Regions from separate parts of the Homo sapiens genome. Here region 1 is linked to region 2. Evidence: fine-mapped expression QTL. A gene starts in region 2. The other region holds a variant in brackets. All regions are shown on one strand. Distances are between the middles of the regions. Region 1 overlaps FKBP15 (FKBP prolyl isomerase family member 15). Region 2 holds the start of CDC26 (cell division cycle 26).

The links. PIP is the estimated chance that this variant, and not a neighbour inherited with it, causes the effect. A credible set is the group of variants that fine-mapping cannot tell apart.
Region 1: its variant is the best candidate, but not a certain one, in a credible set for the expression of CDC26 in whole blood (INTERVAL, PIP 0.56).

What each region holds. Positions count from the first base shown.
Region 1 is chr9:113,205,058-113,208,036 of GRCh38, reverse strand. FKBP15 (FKBP prolyl isomerase family member 15) reads left to right here. Exons shown (of 28, transcript NM_015258.2): 3 at 741-825; 4 at 1,459-1,528. Among named protein-coding and RNA genes, the nearest start is that of FKBP15, 15 kb to the left of the region's middle. The variant A/G (reference allele first, on the strand shown) is at 1,455.
Region 2 is chr9:113,274,004-113,276,870 of GRCh38, reverse strand. CDC26 (cell division cycle 26) reads left to right here and starts at 1,299. Exons shown (of 4, transcript NM_139286.4): 1 at 1,299-1,489. It overlaps PRPF4 (pre-mRNA splicing tri-snRNP complex factor PRPF4), which reads right to left and starts at 1,213. Exons shown (of 14, transcript NM_001244926.2): 1 at 1,101-1,213; 2 at 146-323. The coding sequence starts at 1,127. RefSeq lists enhancers at 1,226-1,565, 1,333-2,188.

The sequences.
Region 1 (2,979 bases), 69 kb after region 2:
ATTAATGGGTGTGATTTAAATATCTTACTGAATTTCCCACCCTAGAAGACAGGGAAGGGGAAATAACTTTATTTTCATATATTATAGCTGTCAAAATACTGGAAGGAGAAAATAAAATAGATGGACTATCACTTTTTAGACAGTACTCCTTGTCTAGCCAAAGACTTATTTGGGGTGTGTGGGTTGGGAGTTGGAGTCATGGGTTTCAGACCTAGGCACTATCATGGTATAATTGTGTGAGGCACTTGGGTGATTAGAACCTCAGTTTCTTCACCCCCAGACTAGATCATAGGGCTGCTTTGTGGATCAAATAAGGATAATCATAAAAGCATTACAACACTGACTGTAAATTATAAAGATCAATTTTGAAGCTAGTTCAGTGGTTAAAAATTAGTTTAAGGCCAGGTACAGTAGCTCACGCCTGTAATTCCAGCACTTTGGGAGGCTGAGGCAGGTGGATCACGAGGTCAGGAGTTCAAGACCAGCCTGTCCAACATGGTGAAACCCCATCTCTACTAAAAATACAAAAATTAGCCGGATGTGGTGGCACGCAACTGGAATCCCAGCTACTCATGAGGCTGAGGCAGGAGAATGGCTTGAACCCGGGAGGTGGAGGTTGCAGTGAACCGAGATCACGCCACTGCACTCCAGCCTGGGTGACAAAGTGAAACTCCGTCTTTAAAAAAAATTAGTTTAAAGCAAGAAGTGAATGACAACTTTGTTTTCTTGTTCATCTTCAGGAAATCAGGCAACACCAAAAACAGCACCAGCCACCATGAGCACTCCCACAATACTGGTCGCAACAGCAGTCCATGCATATCGATAGTAAGTCGCTGAGAAGGAACACCCTCTGAAGTTTGGTGGAAGGGCGTGCAGTTAAGCTACTTTTTCTCGAAAAACCTCTGTTTGTTGCAAAACGGTTATTTAGCCCTTCCACGGACAAAATATCAGTAGAACTTTTAACATCTGAATTGGAGATTTCTGTGGTAAAACTTGAAAAGCCATTATCTTGTCTACTGTCTTTAGGGAGTGCTTGTACCCTCAACAGCTGTCAAATGCTCAAAGAAAGCCTCTCCACTGAGATAGCATGAATGATAGATATTTATATTTAAAGAGTAAGGGAATAGTATATGAGCTTTAAATTATAAACTGCTGGGCCGGGTGCGGTGGCGCACTCCTGTAATCCCAGCACTTTGGGAGGCCGAGGCAGAAGAATTGCTTGAACCTGGGAGGCAGAGGTTGCAGTGAGCCAAGATCATGTCACTGCACTCCAGCCTGGTGACAGAGCGAGACTCTGTCTCAAAAAAAAAAAAAAAAAAAAAAATTTTAAACCGCTCACCTGTGTCCCTGCCTAGAGGCTGAATGACTGTTGTTCCCACTTCTGTATGACAGAAAAGAAAGCTGGTTCTGCAGAATTTAGGGAAGTATTAATACTTGTTGTTTCTCTTCCTTTT[A/G]TAGCACAAATGGTCAATATGTAAAGCAGGGCAAATTTGGTGCTGCAGTTCTGGGGAACCACACAGCCAGAGAGGTGAGAGTGCTCCCACATCTCATGTATATTCAGATGTCCCAAATAATACCAATGAGCTGGCTTTTATCTGGCTTGCCCGATGTCTTGTTTATCAGAAGATAAGGATGATTATTTGTATTGAATGTTAATTTATAACATCAAGCATATAGTAAATGATCACATTTTGCTTACTATTGTGCGTTAAAACAAATCCAACCATTCAAAATTGTTAAATTTGACCTTTGTGATATGATCCTAGCTTAAGAATTTGGGCATTTTTTTGTTTGTTTGTTGTTCAATTGTGGGGTGCGTGTGTACACACACATACACAAATACACACATATATATACACATACATATGTATATATAAGATAAAATTTGCCATTTAACCATTTTTAAGTGCATAATCCAGTGCCATTAATTGCATTCACAGTATTGATTGAGCAACCATCACTACTATCCATTTCCCAAACAGAAAGTGTAACCATTAAGCAATAACTCTACTTCTTCCTTTTTCCCAGCTGCCCATAAGGTCAAATCTCTTCTTGTTTTTATGAATTTGCCCTTTCTAGGTACCTAATATAGGTGGAATCATAACAGTATTTGTCTTTGGTGACTGATGTATTTCATTTCACATAATGTCCTGAAGGTTCACCCATGTTATAGCATGCATCAGTATTTCATTCCTTTTCATGGCTGAAAAATATTTCATTGTAGGTATATACCACATTTTGTTTATTCATTCATCAGTTGATGGACACTGGGTTGTTTATACCTTTTGTCTATTGGGAATAGACAAAAAAAGTATGTATCGTGAAGACTGACATAAAAGTATATGGTCAAGTTCCTATTTTGGCTGTATACTAAGAGTGGAAATTGCTGACTCGTATGGTAATTTTATGTACCACTTTTTGAGAAACTGCCAAACTGTTTTCCACAGCAGCCACACCATTTCACATTCCCACAAGCAATGTATGAGGGTTTCAGTTTCTTCACATCCTTGCCAGCATTTTGTTATTATTATTATTTTTAAATTCTTGCCATTCTAGTAGGTGTGGAATGGTACTTTATTGTGGTTTTAATGTGCATTTTACCCAATGTCTAATGTTGAGTATCTTTTCATTTGCTTATTGACCATTCATGTATTTTCTGTGGAGAGATGTCTACTCAAGCCCTTTGTCCATTTTAAAAATTGGATTGTTTGTCTTTTTGTTGTGGAGTTGTAGTAGTCTTTTAATATATTCTGAGTATTAAACCCTTATTTGCAGATATTTTATAGATTATCTTTTCACTTTCTTGATAATGTCCTTTGATGTACAAAAGTTTTTAATTTTGGTGAAGTCCATATTATCAAGTTTTTTCTTTTGTTACTTGTACTTTTGGTGTTTTATCTGAGAATCCATTACCAAAACCAAGGTCATGACGATTCACCTCTACGTTTTCTTCTAAGAGTTTTATGATTTTATCCCTCA
Region 2 (2,867 bases):
TGCACTCCAGCCTGGCGACAGAGCGAGACTCTGTTTAAAAAAAAAAAAATTGTAATTTTTTGACATTATAAAACTGTGGTATTTAAGTTTAGAAAGGTATTCATTACACAAAGAGGTAAAGATGGGCTCACAATTTGCATCTTACCAGAGGTTATATTAATATTTCCAGCTTCGATCCCTGCTTTAAGTCCGTCTTTCCCCAAAATCCCAGACTCTCCTTTGGCCAGACGCTCCCTCTCCTTCTCTTCCAAACTTCCATAATAGATGTGTGGTTTCTTCACGACCGGAGCAACTAAGTCGTCGGGTGCTTTAGTTTTGGTTGCCTGCTAAATCAAAGATCTGCATTAAACTAAGGTTTAATCTTGGCAATTTACCGGACTTCACCAGAGGATGAAGCTCACCCTGAGTTTCACAGTCCTGTTTCCTCTGTAATTGAAAGGACAAATTGGACACTACTTAAGACGCTCTTCATTGATTTGAGGAGGTGAAGGTAGGGTGAGGGTGTTTCAGTCCCTCACTTTGGTTGATGGGATTAATAAAACTAGTGAGGTTCTCTCGGGTATTTTCCTATGAAAGGTTTGCTCTGAAATCTGTTTACTTCATTCCGTTGGAAGTGTTCAATCTCGTGTTTTATGCTTCCCGGATTACTGCTTATCACTGGGGAAATACTAAGGATAGATGAAATAACCAACGCGGTGCTAAAGGATAACAAGTTACAACATTACAAGTGTATACATTTCAAACGTTCCTAGACGTGAGGTAGTAGGAGTTAGTAGGTCTCATTAAAATTCTGAGATCTGCCAAAGGCATAAACCTTGGCCAAGACACTTCCCTATTTCAGAGCACCGTTACTGGATGAGTCGGAAGAGATGCTTGCCCTTTGGGGCTGTAGTGGGAGAGGTGCAAATAAGCTACAGTCCACGAAAGCGCTTAGGGATCAGGAAAACGGTGGTCCGCTGTGTAGGACACCGCTGAGTCCCGCAGCCTTCCTCCTCAGCCCTCCACCGCCTTCTCCCGCTCCTTAACGGCCCCTTCCCGCAGAGATCCCCTTCCCCCTTAGCGCTCCCTGCCAGAGTGAGCTGGGATCCCGGGCTCTGTACCGTGGAAGAGGCTCGCGAGGAAGCCATGCTGGGCTCTGGAGCCGCGAGGCCCCAGCGAAACCCGAACACTCCCTTTCAGACCGTCCACCGCGCGCCCAGCAGAGGGGAAGTGCGTCACTGACAGGAAGTGCGTCACTGACAAGACGTGGGCCAAGAGGGGTCACCGCCCCCGGAGCGGCGCGGAGCATGATGGAAGTCGTAGTAGGAAATGGCGTCGTGGCATTGAGGGGCATCCCTCCTAGAACCTCCAGGAAAAGCTCGCGGAAGACGAGGTTCTGCGGAGAGAGAGGCTCCAAGCAGTCTGGGAAGTGTAGTCCAGTTGGCTTAGCAGTAGTTTCGTTGGGGGGGAGCCGAGGTTCCGGGAAGGGGCTAGGCCGGCTTGAAAAGAGGTAGGTGAGTCGACTCGCGCGGCTCGGGGCTGAACTCTGGAGCGAGTCAAGGGCTTCCGGGGTCCGCTGTGCCCCCCGGGCGTACGGGGGCGTTTACGTCTTCTTGGAGCCGAGGACCATGTTACCATAGAAACCCTTGCCTGGGCTCCGAGGTACAGGCCTGGAGCTAGGGGACGAGGACTGTTCTCCTCCATGGTCCGGAAGTCTTCCCAGGCTCCCCCTCTGAGCTTGATGGCTCGGCGGTGGATTTGGGCTGCGGCGGGAGATTAAGCTAGAAGAGCCCGCTAGTGCCAAAGTCAAATAAAGACCCGGCGGAGGAGCTTCGGCCTGATTTTGTTGATTTGTCTTCAGCCTGGTCTTTGTATCAGATTGAGAGTAAGATGATGGATAGGAAGGTGTCAGGTAACTCTGTACGTCTCTCTGCCCTGCTGGATGCTGGGGCATTAGAGACGAACAGGATAAGGTTTTTATCCCCACATGGGCGGTGGGAGATCCTCAAAATATTGACGTTTCCCTAGCTGGCCAGATCCTCATGCAACCCCCTAGAACAATTACAGCAATAATAGATGTTATTTATTGAACATTTATTAAATGCCAAATAATATTCCAAGAGCTTACTCTGTATTACGTTATTGACTTCCTACAACAGCAGAGTAGGATACAGATGAGGGAACTAAGGTCTAGTGAGAAATGAAACGAATTGTTCAGGATCGGTGGTGTAGTGGGATTAAAACCTGTGCCCTTTAACCTCTACAGCCAGCACTTTTAACTGTTAATCTATACTGCTCCCTAGTGGCCAGTTTTTTGCAGTTTGCAGAAAAGGTAAAATGTATAGATTTTTTTTTCCCCCTTTTAGGTATCCCTATCCCTCTCTTTCCCTCTTTGGAACTTTGGCTTTCTCTACCATTTGTCTGCATTGGAATCTGGTAGAAGATAATGCCTGATTTAGTACAAAGGAATTTGAAATGTAATGTGCCAGTGTTTTGTGTTGATAATATCACCTGTAGTATCCTAAGCTTCATGGGAGAAGGAACTATTTCTTCCTTTGTATACTTCACAGTCCTTAGTTTCATCCTAGATACGTGTAATAATTTGTATCTGTACATACTTTCAAGGAGTTTTCACTTCCATCATTTTCACTTAATGCTTATCATGTTGACCTTTATAATTTTTATAGGAGGCTAAAATTATTAACCAAACTGAACAGCTTGCTTCGATGACTTCTTTATGTGTGAAATAGGAATCATTTTGTCAACTTCACAGGGTTTTTGTGTTAAAATAAGAATGTAAAGAATGGGAATGGAAAAACAGCACGGTGCTCAAGAATGATCTCACCTTCTAGTCAACAAACATTTACTGACTGTTTTTATAGATACAC